2 separate regions of the Homo sapiens genome follow, and region 2 is linked to region 1. The links come from fine-mapping of genetic effects on gene expression. Tissue or cell type: thyroid. Region 1 holds a variant in brackets; the other region holds the start of a gene. All regions are shown on one strand. Distances are between the middles of the regions.

The links. PIP is the estimated chance that this variant, and not a neighbour inherited with it, causes the effect.
Region 2: HEATR4 starts here. The variant in region 1 is fine-mapped to the expression of HEATR4 in thyroid (GTEx, PIP 0.91).

What each region holds. Positions count from the first base shown.
Region 1 is chr14:73,503,549-73,511,670 of GRCh38, forward strand. HEATR4 (HEAT repeat containing 4) reads right to left here. Exons shown (of 18, transcript NM_001220484.1): 8 at 5,764-5,925; 9 at 4,586-4,746; 10 at 2,919-3,023. It also overlaps a transcript of ACOT1 not described here. Among named protein-coding and RNA genes, the nearest start is that of RIOX1, 17 kb to the left of the region's middle. The variant T/C (reference allele first, on the strand shown) is at 4,279.
Region 2 is chr14:73,554,923-73,563,044 of GRCh38, forward strand. It overlaps HEATR4 (HEAT repeat containing 4), which reads right to left and starts at 4,025. Exons shown (of 18, transcript NM_001220484.1): 1 at 3,829-4,025. RefSeq lists an enhancer at 4,857-5,026.

The DNA.
Region 1 (8,122 bases):
TTCTCTACTCCTACCTGGTACTTGATGTCTTTGTAGTCTTCCTTTAGGATTTACCTCAAAAGCATCTCCTTCCTATCTCTTTTATTAAAAATTTTAAAAAATAAAATAAAAACATCTCCTTAGTGAAGTCTTCTTTGCCCCTTGTAAGCACAGGAAATCCCCACAACACCTTATAGCTGCTTCTGTTCTAGCTATTTGTAACATTTACTAACGGAAGACTTATCCCTGCACCCCCAGGGGTAGCATAGTGCCTAGTGCGTCGGATGTGGTCAGAAACTGCATGCTTACTGAATGAGTGAAAAGACTCATAGACATACTGCCTTTCTTAGCTCCAGCAATCTGCCATGAAGTCCTCATCATCTTTACCTCAACCCCTGCTAGCTCTGCATGTCTTTTTACTTTCAGTTGTCAATTCTAAGTGACAAGTGCCAAGGAGGTGAAGGTACAAATGAATTGGAAGTTGTTAAAATGATATTGTTAAGATGCAGATTCTGATTGAGCTGGCTTAAGATGAGATTTTTGCATTTCTTTTTTTTTTTTTTTTTTGAGACGGAGTTTCACTCTTGTTGCCCAGGCTGGAGTGCAATGGCACGATCTCGGCTCACTGCAACCTCCGCCTCCTGGGTTCAAGTGACTCTCCTGCCTGAGCCTCCTGAGTAGCTGGGATTATGGGCATGTGCCACCAAGCCTGGCTAATTTTTTTTTTTTTTTTGAGACGGAGCCTCGCTCTGTTGCCCAGGCTGGGGCGCAGTGGTGCGATCTCAACTCACTGCAACCTCCACCTCCTGGGATCACGCCATTCTCCTGCCTCAGCCTCCCGAGGAGCTGGGACTACAGGTGCCTGCCACCACACCCGCCTAATTTTTTTTATTTTTAGTAGAGACAGGGTTTCACCGTGTTAGCCAGGATGGTCTCGATCTCCTGACCTCGTGATCCGCCCTCCTTGGCCTCCCAAAGTGCTGGGATTACAGGTGCGAGCCACTGTGCCCGGCCGATTTTTGCATTTCTAATAATGCTCCTAGGTGACGCCTGTGCTGCTGGTCCAGGACTTTAGCAGCAGGGTGCTATAGCACTTGAGACAGAACTAACCCAAGTCCAAAACCTTTTCAGGTGATTACTGTACTGAGTGGCCAGATTTTGTGCTTCCCATATCAAAATGTCAGGGTTACAGAGTGGAGGTTGTTCACTTATCATGGGAATGGCAATGTTCTGGGCTATTCTGGAGATATCCAAAGTTATAAGGAAAAGATGAAGTAGCACATAGGAAGAAGGGAAAGCTCCCATTTGGACAGCTGAAGATGATTGGGAAATAATGGCAAAAACGAAGTGTTGCCTGGAATTCCCTCTTTAGTTCTAGCTGAGCCCCACCATCTTCACCGACAGTTGGTTTGTTTTTTTTTTTAGATGGAGTCTCGCTCTGTCGCCCAGGCTGGAGTGCAGTGGCACGATCTTGGCTCACTGAAACCGCCGCCTCCCAGGTTTAAGCGATTCTCCTGCCTCAGCCTCCAAGTAGCTGGGATGACAGGTGTGTGCCACCATGCCCAGCTAATTAGAGATGGGGTTTTGCCATGATGACCAGGCTGGTTTCAACCTCCTGGTCTCAAGTGATCCACCCGCCTCAGCCTCCCAAGGTGCTGGGCTTACAGGCATGAGCCACCGTACCGGACCCCTTCACAGAACTTTAACCAATAAATTTAACCCACACTAATCTCTCTCTCTCTGAAAAGTTTTAAAAGGGTACCTTATATTTATTGCTTGTTCTTGAATCATTTGTGTATATTAGTCTTATTGTTCCTACCATAGTGTTAATTTTGTGAAAGTTGGGACAATGGTTTTTTTGTTTTGTTTTTTTTTGTTTTGTTTTTTGAGACAGAGTCTCGCACTGTCGCCCAGGCTGGAGTGCAGTGGTGCGATCTCGGCTCACTGCAACCTCTCCCTCCCAGGTTCAAGCAATTCTTGTGCCTCAGCCTTCCAAGTAGCTAGGATTACAGGTGCCAGCCACCACACCTGGCTAATTTTTGTATTTTAGTACAGATAGGATTTCACTATGTTGGCCAGGCTGGTCTGAAACTCCTGAGCTCTGATCCACCTGCCTTGGCCTCCCAAAGTGCTGGCATTACAGGTGTGAGCCACCGTGCCCGGCCGGGACTATGTTTTATATGTGTGTGCCGAACACTCTGAGAAGCAGCACAGACACTCATTTAGATGGGTTTTTGGGTAGTCTAAGTCAGTGCTTCTCGAATGATCTTTGATGAAGAACCAATTTTGGCGGGGGGGAAATATGTCATTGACTGATAAAGTCTGTTGATATTGAGGCAATATCAAATTACTATAAACGTTTCTTTTTTTTTTTTTTTTTTGAGATGGAGTCTCCCTCTGTCACCCAGGCTAGAGAGCAGTGGTGAGATCTTGGTTCACTGCAACCTCTGCCTCCTGGGTTCAAGCGATTCTCCTGCCTCAGCCTCCCAAGTAGCAGGGATTATAGGCGCGTGCCACCACACTCTGCTAATTTTTGTATTTTTAGTAGAGATGGAGTTTCACCATGTTGGTCAGGCTGGTCTCCAACTCCTGACCTCGTGATCCGCCTGCCTTGGCCTCCCCAAGTGCTGGGATTACAGATGTGAGCCACCGCACCCGGCCTACTATAAACGTTTCTAAACTCCTGTCAGTTTTTGTGCTATTTCATTGTGGATCAGTTACCAACAGTTTATGGACCACCAGTGCACTGAGAAGCATTGGCTTCCAGACAGACATATTAGCATTTGAAGATAATTCTGGGCTAGAAGTAAGAAGTAGTGATGTGGGAACAGAGATCTGTTTGGTAAGAATGGAATAATACATAGCAGCAAAAAGTAGAAGGCCTCTGTAGCTCAGCCTCTCTTAGGCTTTCTGTCCTGGAGGCAAAGAAAGAGGTTTACCAAGCAGACATTTCCACTGATCCGGGAGAAAGCCTGGCAGGCCACAATCCGGTTCTTCCATTGACAGCTGTTCAGCTCCACAGCAAGCATGGTGTGTATCAGGGTCTGAGGAAATGGAAGACTTGTATGGATATTCACAATCACTTTTAGAGATACTAGAACCTTGAAGTTACATTCTGAAATGGCATCCTGCATAATTAATGTCACCAGTGGGCTTACAAGAGATGGGGCATGTTTCCATCACAGCCAACTGACTCTGGGATCATAAATTGGGGAACAAAATACAAATTTAATAACTTAAACAGAAAACTGGGACCTTCCTTTCCTGACTTTAACTGTTTTTTTTTTTTTTTTTTTTTCTGAGAAGGTTGTCCCCCAGGCTGGAGTGCAGTGGCACAATCTCGGCTCACTGCAACCTCCGCCTCTCGGGTTCAAGTGATTCTGTTGCCTCAGCCTCCCAAGTAGCTGGGATTACAGGCGCCTGCCACCACGCCCGGTTAATTTTTGTATTTTTAGTAGAGGCGGGGTTTTACCATGTTGGTGCCAGGCTGGTCTTGAATTCCTGACCTCAGGTGATCTGCCTGCCTCGGCCTCCCAAAGTGCTGGGATTACAGGCGTGAGCCACCGTGCCCGGCCTTCTGTCTTTAACTGTTTTTACCCCTAAAATGATTTTTATATGCCTCAAGCTTATGACTTTCACATTTCTATTGAAAGTAACTAAACACAAATATAGGCCTCTGCAGTTTTCAATGGTAAACTTCTAGCAGAAGCAAATTCTACATGTCAGAACTCTTCTTGCATATGCAAATAGAGACCATTTGCAACCTAATTCTCACTTTTCTCTCAGCTAACTATTGTGACTTCCCTTTGTATACACCTCTACACCCAGGTTTACTCATGCTTATTCTACGTTTACTTATGCTTGAGATTGTCAACCCAACCGGCTGCATTTTATCTAATTAATTAATTGTGTAATTAATTTTTTGAGGCAGGGTCTTGCTCTGTCGCTCAGGCTGGAGTACAGTGGTGTGATCTCAGCTCGCTGCAGCCCCAACCTGCCAGGCTCAAGTGATCCTCCCACCTCAGCCTCTTGAGTAGCTAGGATTACAGGCACATACCACCATGCCTGACTAATTTTATTTCTTTTTTTGTAGAGACAGGGTCTCACTATATTGCCCAGGCTGGTCTTGAAATCCTGGACTCAAGGGATACTCCCACCTCAGCCTCCCAAAGTGCTGGGATTACAGGCGTGAGCGACCATGCCCAGCCCAGCTGCATTTTATTTTATTTGTTTGAGACAGAGTCTTGCTCTGTCACCTAGGCTGGAGTGTAGTGGCGTGATCTCAGCTCACTGCAACCT[T/C]CACCTCCCAGGCTGAAGTGATTTTCATGCCTCAGCCTCCCGAGTAGCTGGGACTACTCAGTGTGGTACCACTGCACCTGTCTAATTTTTTTATTTTTAGTAGAGATGAGGTTTCACCCATGTTGGCCAGTCTGGTCTCGAACTCCTGACCTCAAGTGATCCACCTGCCTCGGCCTCCCGAAGTGTTGGGATTACAGGCATAAGCCACTGCCCCGGCCCCAGCTGCATTTCAGATTGCTTACATTCACTGACCTCAAAGACCTAATTGCTCCCCAAAACTGTGTCTGACCCGGTAATGGACACATACTGTCTTCTCACTCAGATAGCTCAGGAGGATATAAGACTGTTCCTCAGTGTCCTCATTCTTCTTTGTAAACAGCTGGTGGAGGATCCTCTTAATCACAGGGTAAGTAGCAGTACCTTCCAGAGCCAAGCACTGAGCTGCAGCCCAGCTATCCACACTGTTACCTGCCACAGTTGGGTGAAAAAGAGTTCAGAATGGTGATGTGTTTTCCCCCTAGAGAACAGCCTTTGGATTGATACCCAAGGCTGCTACCCCACCTGATATCTCACTTCCTTGTGCCCCACTCAGTCTAGAAATACAATTTCTTATTTAAACCATATTGAGAAGAATCATATTGGCTGGGCACGGTGGCTAACACCTGTAGTCCTCACATTTTGGGAGGCCAAGGTGGGCGGATCACCTAAGGTCAGGAGTTCAAGACCAGCCTGGCCAACATGGTAAAACCCCATCTCTACTAAAAATACAAAAATCAGCCAGGCGTGGTGGCATGCGCCTGTAATCCCAGCTACTTGGGAAGCCGAGGCAGGAGAATTGCTTGAACCCAGGAGGCGGAGGTTGCAGTGTGAGCTGAGATCCCACCATTGCACTCCAGCCTGGGCAACGAGAGTGAAACTCTGTCTCAAAAAAAAAAAAAAAAAAAAAAAAAATTTAGTCCAGCTACCACTTGGTGGCAGTGTACCTGTTTTGTTAAAGTACCTAGAAAGAGCAAATTTTCTTTTTTTCCTTTTTTTTAGAGACAGGGTCTTGCTCTGTCACCCAGGTTGGAGTACAGTGGCACCATTGTGGCTTATTGCAGCTTCAACCCCCTGGGCTCAAGCTGACTCTGATAAGCATGTATATATAGGTCTGCCTCAGCCTCCTAGGTAGCTGGGTCTACAGGAGCACACCACCGCACCTGGCTAATTTTAAAATTTTTTATAGAGATGGGGTCTTGTTATGTTGCCCAGGCTGGTTTAGAACTCCTATGCTCAGGTGATCCTGTCGCCTTGGCCTCCCAAAGTGCTGGGATTACAGGTGTGAGCGACAGTGTCTGGTCCTAATTTTCAAATGGTCTAACATAAATCTAAACCCAATACAGCAGACATTGCAGAGCATCACAGTGGAGAGGAAAGGACTGGGAAAGCTGATAGTGAGATGTCTATCCCATATTTCCAGGTCAGAAGTAACAGGGAGTTACTCACCCTTCAGAAGGGCAGTCTGCATGATGTTCCGGGCAAGGGGATTATGTGACTGTATGGCATATTGGCATATTGCTGCTGCCATCCGCACATGGGCATTCTTGTCACAAAGAGCAGCCTCTAGGGCAGGCAGTAGAACCTCCGGCAAGTCCTGGATGGTCTTGTCTGTGATCAAAAGAGCCAGGTAAGAGAGTACTAGCCCCTTTGCTTTTCTCACACACAGCTTCCTTCCTACAGCCATGTGGTGGCCAACCTCAGTCCCAGCTGCAGTTGCTTAGTGCTATGTAATATAATTACAGTTTAGCTGAGCCCTTCAGATGGGCAGGATTTTCTGCTCAAGGTGTTAAAGCTCACCTGTGTGCTGGTATGCCAATTCCCAATCCTTTATCATCTGGCCTCTAAACAGCTATATTTAAGCCGAAGAAGAATGTTTCCAGCTAGGCTACAGTGAACTACACCATTAGTTTTAGTGATTAAAAGCAACCAATTTGCCCCATGAGCCCATATATATATATATATATATATATATATATATATATATATATATATATATATATATATTTATTTATTTTATATATTTTTTGAGACGGAGTCTTGTTCTGTCACCTGGGCTGGAGTGCAGTGGTGTGATCTCAGCTCACTGCAAGCTCCGCCTCCTGGGTTCACACCATTCTCCTGCCTCAGCCTCCCGAGTAGCTGGGACTACAGGCACCCAGCTAATTTTTAGTATTCTTAGTAGAGATGGGATTTCACCGTGTTAGCCAGGATGGTCTCGATCTCCTGACCTTGTGATCCACCTGCCTCAGCCTCCCAAAGTGCTGGGATTACAGACGTGTGCCACCGCCCCCAGCTGAGCCTTTATATTTGTAAGAACAATTATATTTAGGTAGTGCTTTATAATATAGTGTTTTTACATTATCTTGTTATCTTTCAACCTTGGTTGAATTAGGCAAGGTAGGTATCATTGTAGAGCTCACTAGGGAGTCTTTTTTGGTTCAACTAAACAGTAAGGTTCATAAGACTGTCATGGGCCATGCATGGCACCAGAAGAATATGGGACAGGAGCATAGTTTGTCAACAGGGCAGCAGCATCAGGCATCCCTGTTGGCTGGAGTTTTTTTGTTTTTGTTTTTGTTTTTTTTTTGAGATAGAGTTTTTGCTCTGTTGCCCAGGCTGGAGTACAATGGCACAATCTTGGCTCACTGCAACTTCTGCTTCCTGGGTTCAGGCGATTCTTCTGCCTCAGCCTTCCGAGTATCTGGGACTACAGGCACCTGTCACCACGCCTGGCTAATTTTTGTATTTTTGGTAGAGATGAGGTTTCACCATGTTGGCCAGGCTGGTCTTGAACCCTTGACTTCAGGTGATCCACCTGCCTTGGCCTTCCAAAGTGCTGGAATTACAAGTGTGAGCCACCACACCTGGCTTTGGCTGCAGTTCTTGAGGCTGTCTTGAGCATTCCACAGAGTCTTGGGGACAGCACAGGAGCATGTTGTTTATTCACTGGGTGAATTTATGCTTTACAGGAACTAATATCTCTTATAAAAACTCCATAGACACAATTCTAGGGTCCACAAAGGGCCTGCCTGTTATAAGTTACAGTATCCAGGGAGGCCCAAACTATGGTGTCCCTATCAAGTATTTATATTTCACTTATAGCTCTTCTCAGTCCCAATGTAATTTATCAAACAGGATTTATATCATAACCAATGTTGCCTATAAAGATAGTTCTTATCAGGTGTTTAGGGGAACAGGTGGGCATTTAACTGAAGTTCAAATTCTCAAGTAGGAAGGGGAAAGGTTTGTTATCCCTTTGTCTACCACTAGTCTCATTTTATAGATAGGTAATTTGAAGCTCAGAGAGGTTAGCTGACTGCCCAAGGAGTGGCACAGCTAAGCCCGTGAATCATATTTTAAGATTTTGTCAGGTGCGGTGGCTCATGCCTGTAATCCCAGCACTTTGGGAGGCTGAGGTGGGTGGATCACTTGAGGTCAGGAGTTCAAGACCAGCCTGGCCAACATGGTGAAACCCCATCTCTACTAAAAATACAAAAAAATGAGCTGGGCATGGTGGCACACGCCTGTATGTAGTCCCAGCTACTCGGGAGACTAGGGCAGGAGAATTGCTTGAACCTGGGAGGTGGAGGTTGCAGTGAGCAGAGATCGCGCCACTGCACTCCAGCCTGGGTGACAGAGCAAGACTCTGTCTCAAAAATAAATAAATAAATAAATAAATAAATAAATAAATAAATAAATAAAATAAAATAAAAAAGAATGGGCTCTTGGCTGGGCACAGTGGCTCACGCCTGTAATCCCAGCAGTTTGGGAGGTTAAGGTGGGAGGATTACTTGAGGCCAGGAGT
Region 2 (8,122 bases), 51 kb after region 1:
TTGGAAAGCATGGTCTACAATTGCTTGTCAAATTCTGAAGCTATGAAGAATAAATGTTTCAACTTTGGATTATGAAACCCCATTTATGATTTTTTAAATAAACTTGAAATAAAAATGATTAAACTAAAAAAAAAGAATGTAGAGGGAGAGATCAATGTAAAAATTTATTTAAAGAAATAGTAACAGAGAACTTTCTAAAACTAGAGAAAGATATGAATATACAGGTATAAGAAGGTCATAAAACACCAAGCCAACTCAGCCTCAATAAGACTACCTCAAGGCATATAATAATCAAACTCTCAAAGGTCAAGGCTAAAAAAGGATCCTAAAAGCAGCAAGAGAAAAGAAGGACATATTAATAACATCATAAAGGAGCTCCAATATGGCTGGTAGCAGACTTCTCAGCAGAAACTTTACAAGCAGAGAGTGGGGTGACAAAGTGCTGAAGCAAAAAAACTTCCAATCTAGAATATTATATTCAGCAAAAACAGCCTTCAAACATGAAAGAGAAATAAGGATATTCTTAGTTAAAAAAAAAAAAGTGAGAGATTTTGACATCAGACCTGTCTTATAAGATTCTTGTTAAGAGGAGTTCCTCACTGGTTGAGTATGAATGGTCAAATGAAAAGAACATTAATATTCTCCTGCCTTGCATATTCTTCTAAAACATTTTACATTCCTAACACATCAGTGTGTCCACATCTTGCTTCTAAGGCAGGGGGCAATTTGATCCTAAACAGTTGAAAAATGGGATGAGGACTCATTTCATCCCCAGATGACTACCTATAAGGAGTGATTGGCTAGGTGGGTGGCTCACGCCTGTAATCCCAGCACTTTGGGAGGCTGAGGCGGGTGGATCACCCAAGGTCAGGAGTTCGAGACCAGCCAGCCTGATCAACATGGAGAAACCCCATCTCTACTAAAAATACAAAATTAGCCAGGCATGGTGGCACACACCTGTAATCCCAGCTACTTGGGAGGCTGAGGCAGGAGAGTTGCTTGAACCTGACAAGCAGAGGTTGCAGCGAGCCGAGATCGTGCCACCGCACTCCAGCCTGGATAACAAGAGCAAAACTCTATCTCAAAAAAAAAGGAGTGATTTAGGGTGTCCGCAGATAAATGCCCTTTAGCCTTTGACATAAAGAATCTTTAGTTACAATGCAAACATCCCAGAAAGAATACCATATTACCATTATCAATTATTAGAAATTCTTAAGGAGGCTGGGTGCGGTGGCTCACGCCTGTAATCCCAACACTTTGGGAGGCTGAGGCAGGCAGATCACCAGAGGTCAGCAGTTCAAGAGCAGCATGGCCAACATGGCGAAACCCCATCTCTACTAAAAATACAAAAAATTAGCCAGGCATGGTGGCAGGCACCCGTAATCCCAGCTACTCAGGAGGCTGAGGCAGGAGAATCGCTTGAACCCAGGAGGCGGAGGTTGCAGTGAGCCAAGATCACACCAGTGCACTCCAGGCTGGGTGACAAGAGTGAAACTTCTTCTCAAAAAAAAAAAACAAAAAAAACTTAAGGAATAGTTATTATCATCCGATATGATGGCTTATTAAGAAGGAAGGGAACACATGATAGGTCTGTTTTGAAAAGGAATGGGGACAGAACAAAATGTTACACAAGGTCTGATCAAAAGAGGCTTGTTCTGGCTTGTCTTTGTCTGTCTTGGAGTCACGGGACAGGTGTAAGGCCAAATTGTGCACTTCCCAGTCATGTTACCTTGGGCAAATAATTTGAAATCTGTAGTTTCCCAATCTGAAAATTGAGTCTGATACCTGTTCTAATTTAGTGTTGATTGATATGAACCTCAAAATTAGAAACGTATGAAAGTTCTTTGCAAACTAAAATATATGTGTGAGGAATTGTTATTATTAGTTTAGAGGATGGACTGTTGTCCTTAGAAGGCAAGTCTCTGGGTCCTACAGTTAGATGCACTGGGCGCTTCGGGAAGAATTTAGGGCTATGGGGTACTCAGCAATTAAAAGAGAGGGTGCTTAGAGAAGAAAGAAAGGACTTATTAATGGAGTTTGGAGGCTCCTTATTATCGAAACTTACACATTACGTGACCAGCATTATGAGGCAGCACCCCACTCCCAACAAATAGCCCTCTAGAACCAAAAGCAGAGTGGCAGGTCCGGGGTCCTTTTGTACATAGACAGCATAAAAAATTGACTAAGTCAATCCTGGCATAACTGCAGACCAGGCCCTGGAATGAGCAACCCACCAGCATTATCTGCATTTCTAGGAACTTGGGCTAGAAGGGGAGGAATGGGGTTGGAAGGGTTAGGCCACATGCCTCTAGTTAAAACCTGATGAACTTCCTAGATCCCCAGCTGGAAAACGTAGGAGTTGGACTAAATTCCTCTCCTGCCTCTAATATTTTATGAATACAGAACTCAACTCAAACTGGGTAGTATCTCAGAGATTCCAAATTTAGTTCCACTTTTCTGTTTGCTTATCAGTCGCTTACCCTCACCCTCTGGTCTGATACCTTTATCCTGTACAAGTGGTCAAAGTAGGTTGAGTAACATGTGCTAAAAGGAGTAATATCTTGCATTCTCCCTTGTTATTAAAATAGAGGAAACTGCCTTGAAAGAAAAGACTAAAAAGCAATAAGCCTTAGTATCAGTATCTTCTGAAAGCTTTAAAAAAATAATACTCTCATCTCTACCAACAGATTTGGATTCTGAAGTTCTGAGGTGGAGTCCAAGAGTGTGCAGTCAGCTTCTGGGGTGGTGTTTGTTAGATACAGTTTTTTGTTTATTTATTTATGTTTGAGACAGGGCCTCACTCTGTCACCCAAGCTGGAGTGCGGTGGCACAGTCATGGCTCACTGCAGCCTTGCCTCCCAGGCTCAAGCAATCCTCCTGCCTCAGCGTCCCCAGTAGCTGGGACCACAGGTGTGCACCACCATGCCTGGCTAATGTTTTAAAACTTTTTTTTGTAGAGACAGGGTCTTACTATGTTGTCCAGGCTGGTTTCAAACTCCTGGAATCAAGTGATCTTCCTGCCTTGGCCTCCAGAAATGCTGGGACTATGCCTGGAATAGATATGGGTAAAGAACCTTTTACATCAGACTCTTGTGTCCTACTCCCAGAATGCTGATTCAGTAGCCTGCAAGTGAGGCCTAGAAATCTGCATTTTCACAAGCTCTCAGGTTTAATACACAATACATTTAAAGAAAGCACAGCCCAAAGGGTGTCAGTGGGGTGTATGAAGGAAGCCTGGTTAGTGGGGAGAGTGGGATTAGGGAACAGCTGCTTAACCTGGCTTGTTTCAAGTCCCCCTTTCTCCCTTTTTGCCCTCAAAAAGTTCCCCTCATTTTTTCCCCTCTACTTTCTAATTTTTTACCATGCACTCACACAGCTATACAGCTATCTCCAGAGATTACTCTGGAAACTCTGCTATAAAGATGACCTGGTCTAATGCCTTGATTTGTTTTTTTTTTTTTGAGACAGGGTCTCACTCTCCTGGAGTACAGTGGCGTGATCATGACTCACTGCAGCCTTGACCTCCTGGGCTCAAGCAATCCTCCCACATAGCTGGGAGCATAGGCACATAGCACACCACTCTCGGTTAAATTTTTTTTTTTTTTTTTTTTTTTGTAGAGATAGAGTCTCACTATGTTGCTCAGGCTGGTCTTGAACTCCTGGACTCAAACAGTCCTCCCACCTTGGCCTCCCAAAATGCTGGGAATACAGGCATGAGCCACTGCACCAGGCCTAATGTCCTGATTTTATAAATCCCAAAACTGGGGCCCAGAGAGAAGAGAAATCATTAAGATCACCATACTGCTTGGTATCTAAAGTAGTACTGACCCTTTTGACACCTAATCCAAAGTTTTTTCAGCTACCTCAGGTTGCCCCTCATCTTCCAGCTGACACCATCCAGCACCTTTCAGATACTGGCAAAGGAGCAGTGTTTCAAAATTACTTTCCAAATGGCCTCCTAAAAGGCAGTCCTCAGAGAGAAGCAAGGTTCTGCATCTTAAGCCTTCCTTGGTTTCTTAGGTTCCAAAGCTGTTTCTATCAGTCTCCAAGCAACCAACTCTTTAGAATTCCATGAGTCTACTCAGAGAACTTGTGGGTTCAGTCGGGGGTATATCTTCAACCATTTATTAAATTTCCTTCTTTGTAAACTGAGCTTTGAGAAATTGCATCTTATTTATTGATTATTTATTGAATGGTAGTTTCATGGAGTTTTTGGTCTTTTTTCTTTTTTGAGACAGTCTCACTCAGTTGCCTAGGCTGGAGTGCAGTGGTGCGATCTCGGCTCACTGCAACCTGTGCCTCCCAGGTTCAAGCAATTCTCCTGTCTCAGCCTCCCATTACAGGCCACACCACCATGCCCCACTAATTGTACTTTTAGTAGAGATGGGGTTTCACCATGTTGGACAGGCTGTTCTCAAACTCCTGACCTCAAGTGATGTGTCCGCCTTGGCCTCCCAAAGTGCTGGGATTTGCAACTGTGAGCCACCACACCTAGCCTCTTGGTCATTCTTTGAAAAATAAACCTCAGCCAGGCGCGATGGCTCACGCCTGCAATTTCAGCGCTTTGGGAGGCTGAGGTGGCGGATCACCTGAGGTCAGGAGTTAGAGACCAGCCTGACCAACATGGTGAAACCCCATCTCTACTAAAAATAGAAAATTTAAAAAGAAAATCACCTGGGCCTGGTGGCGCATGCCTGTAATCCCAGCTACTCGGGAGGCTGAGGCAGGAGAATCGCTTGGACCCAGGAAGCAGAGGTTGCAGTGAGCCAAGATCAGGCCATTGCACTCCAGCCTGGGCAGCAAGAGTGAAGTGCAGTCTCAAAAGATAAAAATAAAAAAACCCTCTAGATATATGCAGCTCCATATTCTCCCACCACAAGGGTTTATAAATCCTGAGAAAGAGGCAAAGCAGGGAACACATGACCACATAGTTCTGGCAGGCGTCAGATTACCAGGCTGATAAAACAGATGGTAAAGTAGAAGCTGTCCGTCGACTTTTCCATTCCCCTTTCAGCTCCTCCACTGCTACTTAATCTCCTTTGCCCACACAGTTCAATCCCATTTTCCCTGATCTCTAAATCCTGGCTAGATTATTAGCCATTAACACTAGCTTTTACAAGGAGACTCTTCAATCTTGTATTTCTAATAGTATAATTTCACACGTACAGAAATTCTTTAAGTCATAGAAGTCTTACAGATACAGAAATTCTGATCTTCAAGAGTCCCTTTGTGAAACAAACTAATTTATCCTGACAGCAGGAAAGATTTCTGGGCCTAAGGCTCTGTCTCGTTGACCCAGGTCATGCTATTCAGGTGGTCCATCTCTTGGTTCCAAGCAAGACTGCTGCTGCTGACCAACCTGAATATGGACTTTAGCACTTGAGCTCAAGCTGCACTCAGATGGTTAGACCCCCATAAAAAGCAGAGGGTACGTTTTCTGTTATGAAAAGTAAAGACTGAGCCAGGCGCTGTGGCTCACGCCCATAATCCCAGCACTTTGGGAGGCAAGTTGGGCGGATCACGAGGTCAGGAGATTTAAACCATCCTGGGTAACACGGTGAAACCCCATCTCTACTAAAAATACAAAAAAATTAGCCAGGCGTGGTGGCAGGCGCCTGTAGTCCCAGCTACTTGGAGGCTGAGGCAGGAGAATGGCATGAACCCGGGAGGCGGAGCTTGCAGTGAGCCGAGATTGGGCCACTGCACTCCAGCCTGGGCGACAGAGCAAGACTCCATCTCAAAAAAAAAAAAAAAGAAAATTAAATACTAAAAAAATTAAACATTATAACCCTGCTAAGGCAGGAGGATCATTTGAGCCCAGGAGTTTGAGGCTGCAGTGAGCTATGATGGCACTACTGCACCCCAGCCTCAGTGACAGAGGGAGACCCTGTTTCTAATAAATCAAAACCCTGTTGAAGGTTCCTCAAAAAATTAAATATAGAATTACTATGTGATCCAGCAATTCTACTTCTGGGTACATATCCAAAAGAATTGAAAGCAGGGACTTTAACAGATATTTGTATACCCATGTTCATAGCAGCATACTCACAATAGCCAAACGGTGGAAAGAACCCAAATGTCCATCAGTGAATGAATGGATAAACAAAATGTGGAAGATACATACAACAGAATGTTATTCAGCCTTAAAAAGGAATGAAATGGGCTGGGCGTGGTGGCTCAGGCCTGTAATCCCAGCACTTTGGGAGGCCGAGGAGGGTGGATCACCTGAGGTCAAAAGTTCAAGACCAGCCTGGTCAACATGGTGAAACTCCATCTCTACTAAAAATACAAAAATTAGCCAGGCGTAGTGGCAGGCGCCTGTAATCCCAGCTACTCAGGAGACCGAGGCAGGAGAATCTCTTGAACCCAGGAGGCAGAGGTTGCAGTGAGCCAAGATCTCGCCATTGTGGTCCAGCCCGGGCGACAGAGCGAGAGTTTATCTCAAAAAAAAAGAAAGAAAAAAAAAGAAAAAGGAATGAAATGGGCCAGGTGCAGTGGCTCACGCCTATAATCCCAGCACTTTGGGAGCCTGAGGCGGACAGATTACTCAAGGTCAGGAGTTCGAGACCAGCTTGGCCAACACAGTAAACCCCGTCTCTACTAAAAATACAAAAATTAGCTGGGCATGGTGGCACACACCTGTAGTCCCAGCTACTGGGGAGGCTGAGGCAGGAAATCACTTGAACCCAGGAGGTTGCAGTGAGCCAAGCAAGATTGCACCACTCCACCCCAGCCGGGCAACAAGAGTGAAACTCTGTCTCAAAAAAAATGAATGAAATGGCTGTGTGAGGTGGCTCATGCCTATGATCCCAGCACTTTGGGAGGCCGAGGTAGGAAGATTGCTTGAATGTAGAAGTTCAAGACCAGACTGGGCAACAAAGTGAGACCCCCATCTCTACAAAAAACTTAAAAAGTATCCAGGTGAGGTGGCACGTGCTTGTCGTCCCAGCTACTGGGGAGACTGAGATGGGAGGATTGCTTGCACCTGGGTGTTGAGACTGCAGTGAACTGTGATCTTGCCACTGCACTCCAGAGCCTGGGTGACAGAGCAAAATTCCTGGGGAGAGTGAAGTTATGATATGCTGTAAATATATGGATGAGCCTTGAAGACAATATGCTAAGCAAAATAAGCCAGAGATGAAGGGCCAAATACTGTATAATTACACTTTATGAGGTACCTAAAGTAGTCAAATTCAGAGACAGGAAGTGGAATAGTGGTTGCCAGGGGCTGGTGGCAGTGGGGAATAAGGAGTTATTGTTTAATGTTGTGGGAAGTCAAGGACCCCGAATGGAGGGACCGGCTGGAGCCGCGGCAGAGGAACATAAATTGTGAAGATTTCATCTTAATATGGACATTTATCAGTTCCCAAATAATACTTTTATAATTTCTTATGCCTGTCTTTAATATCTTAATCCTGTTATGTTCGTAAGCTGAGGATGTACATAACCTCAGGACCACTGTGATAATTGTGTTAACTGTACAAATTGATTGTAAAACATGTGTTTGAACAATACGAAATCAGTGCACCTTGAAAAAGAACAGAATAACAGCGATTTTTATGGAACAAGGGAAGACAACCATAAGGTCTGACAGCCTGCGGAGTCGGGCCAAAAGAGCCATATTTTTCTTCTTGCAGAGAGCCTACAAACGGACGTGCAAGTAGGAGAGATATCACTAAATTATTTTCCTAGTAAGGAATATTAATATTAATACCCTGGGAAAGGAATGCATTCCTGGCGGGAGGTCTATAAACGGCCGCTCTGGGAATGTCTGTCTTGTGCCGTTGAGATAAGGACTGAGATACGCCCTGGTCTCCTGCAGAACCCTCAGGCTTACTAGGGTTGGGAAAACTCCACCCTGGTAAATTTGTGGTCAGACTGGTTCTCTGCTCTCCAACCCCGTTTTCTGTTGTTTAAGATGTTTATCAAGAAAATACATGCACCGCTGAACACAACCCTTATCAGTGGTTCTGCTTTTGCCCTTTGCCTTGTGATCTTTGTTGGACCTTTGTCAGTGGTTCTGCTTTTGCCCTTTGTCCTATTCCCTCAGAAGCATGTGATCTTTGTTAGAACCTTATTAGTGGTTCTGCTTTTGCCTTTTGAAGCATACGATCTTTGTACC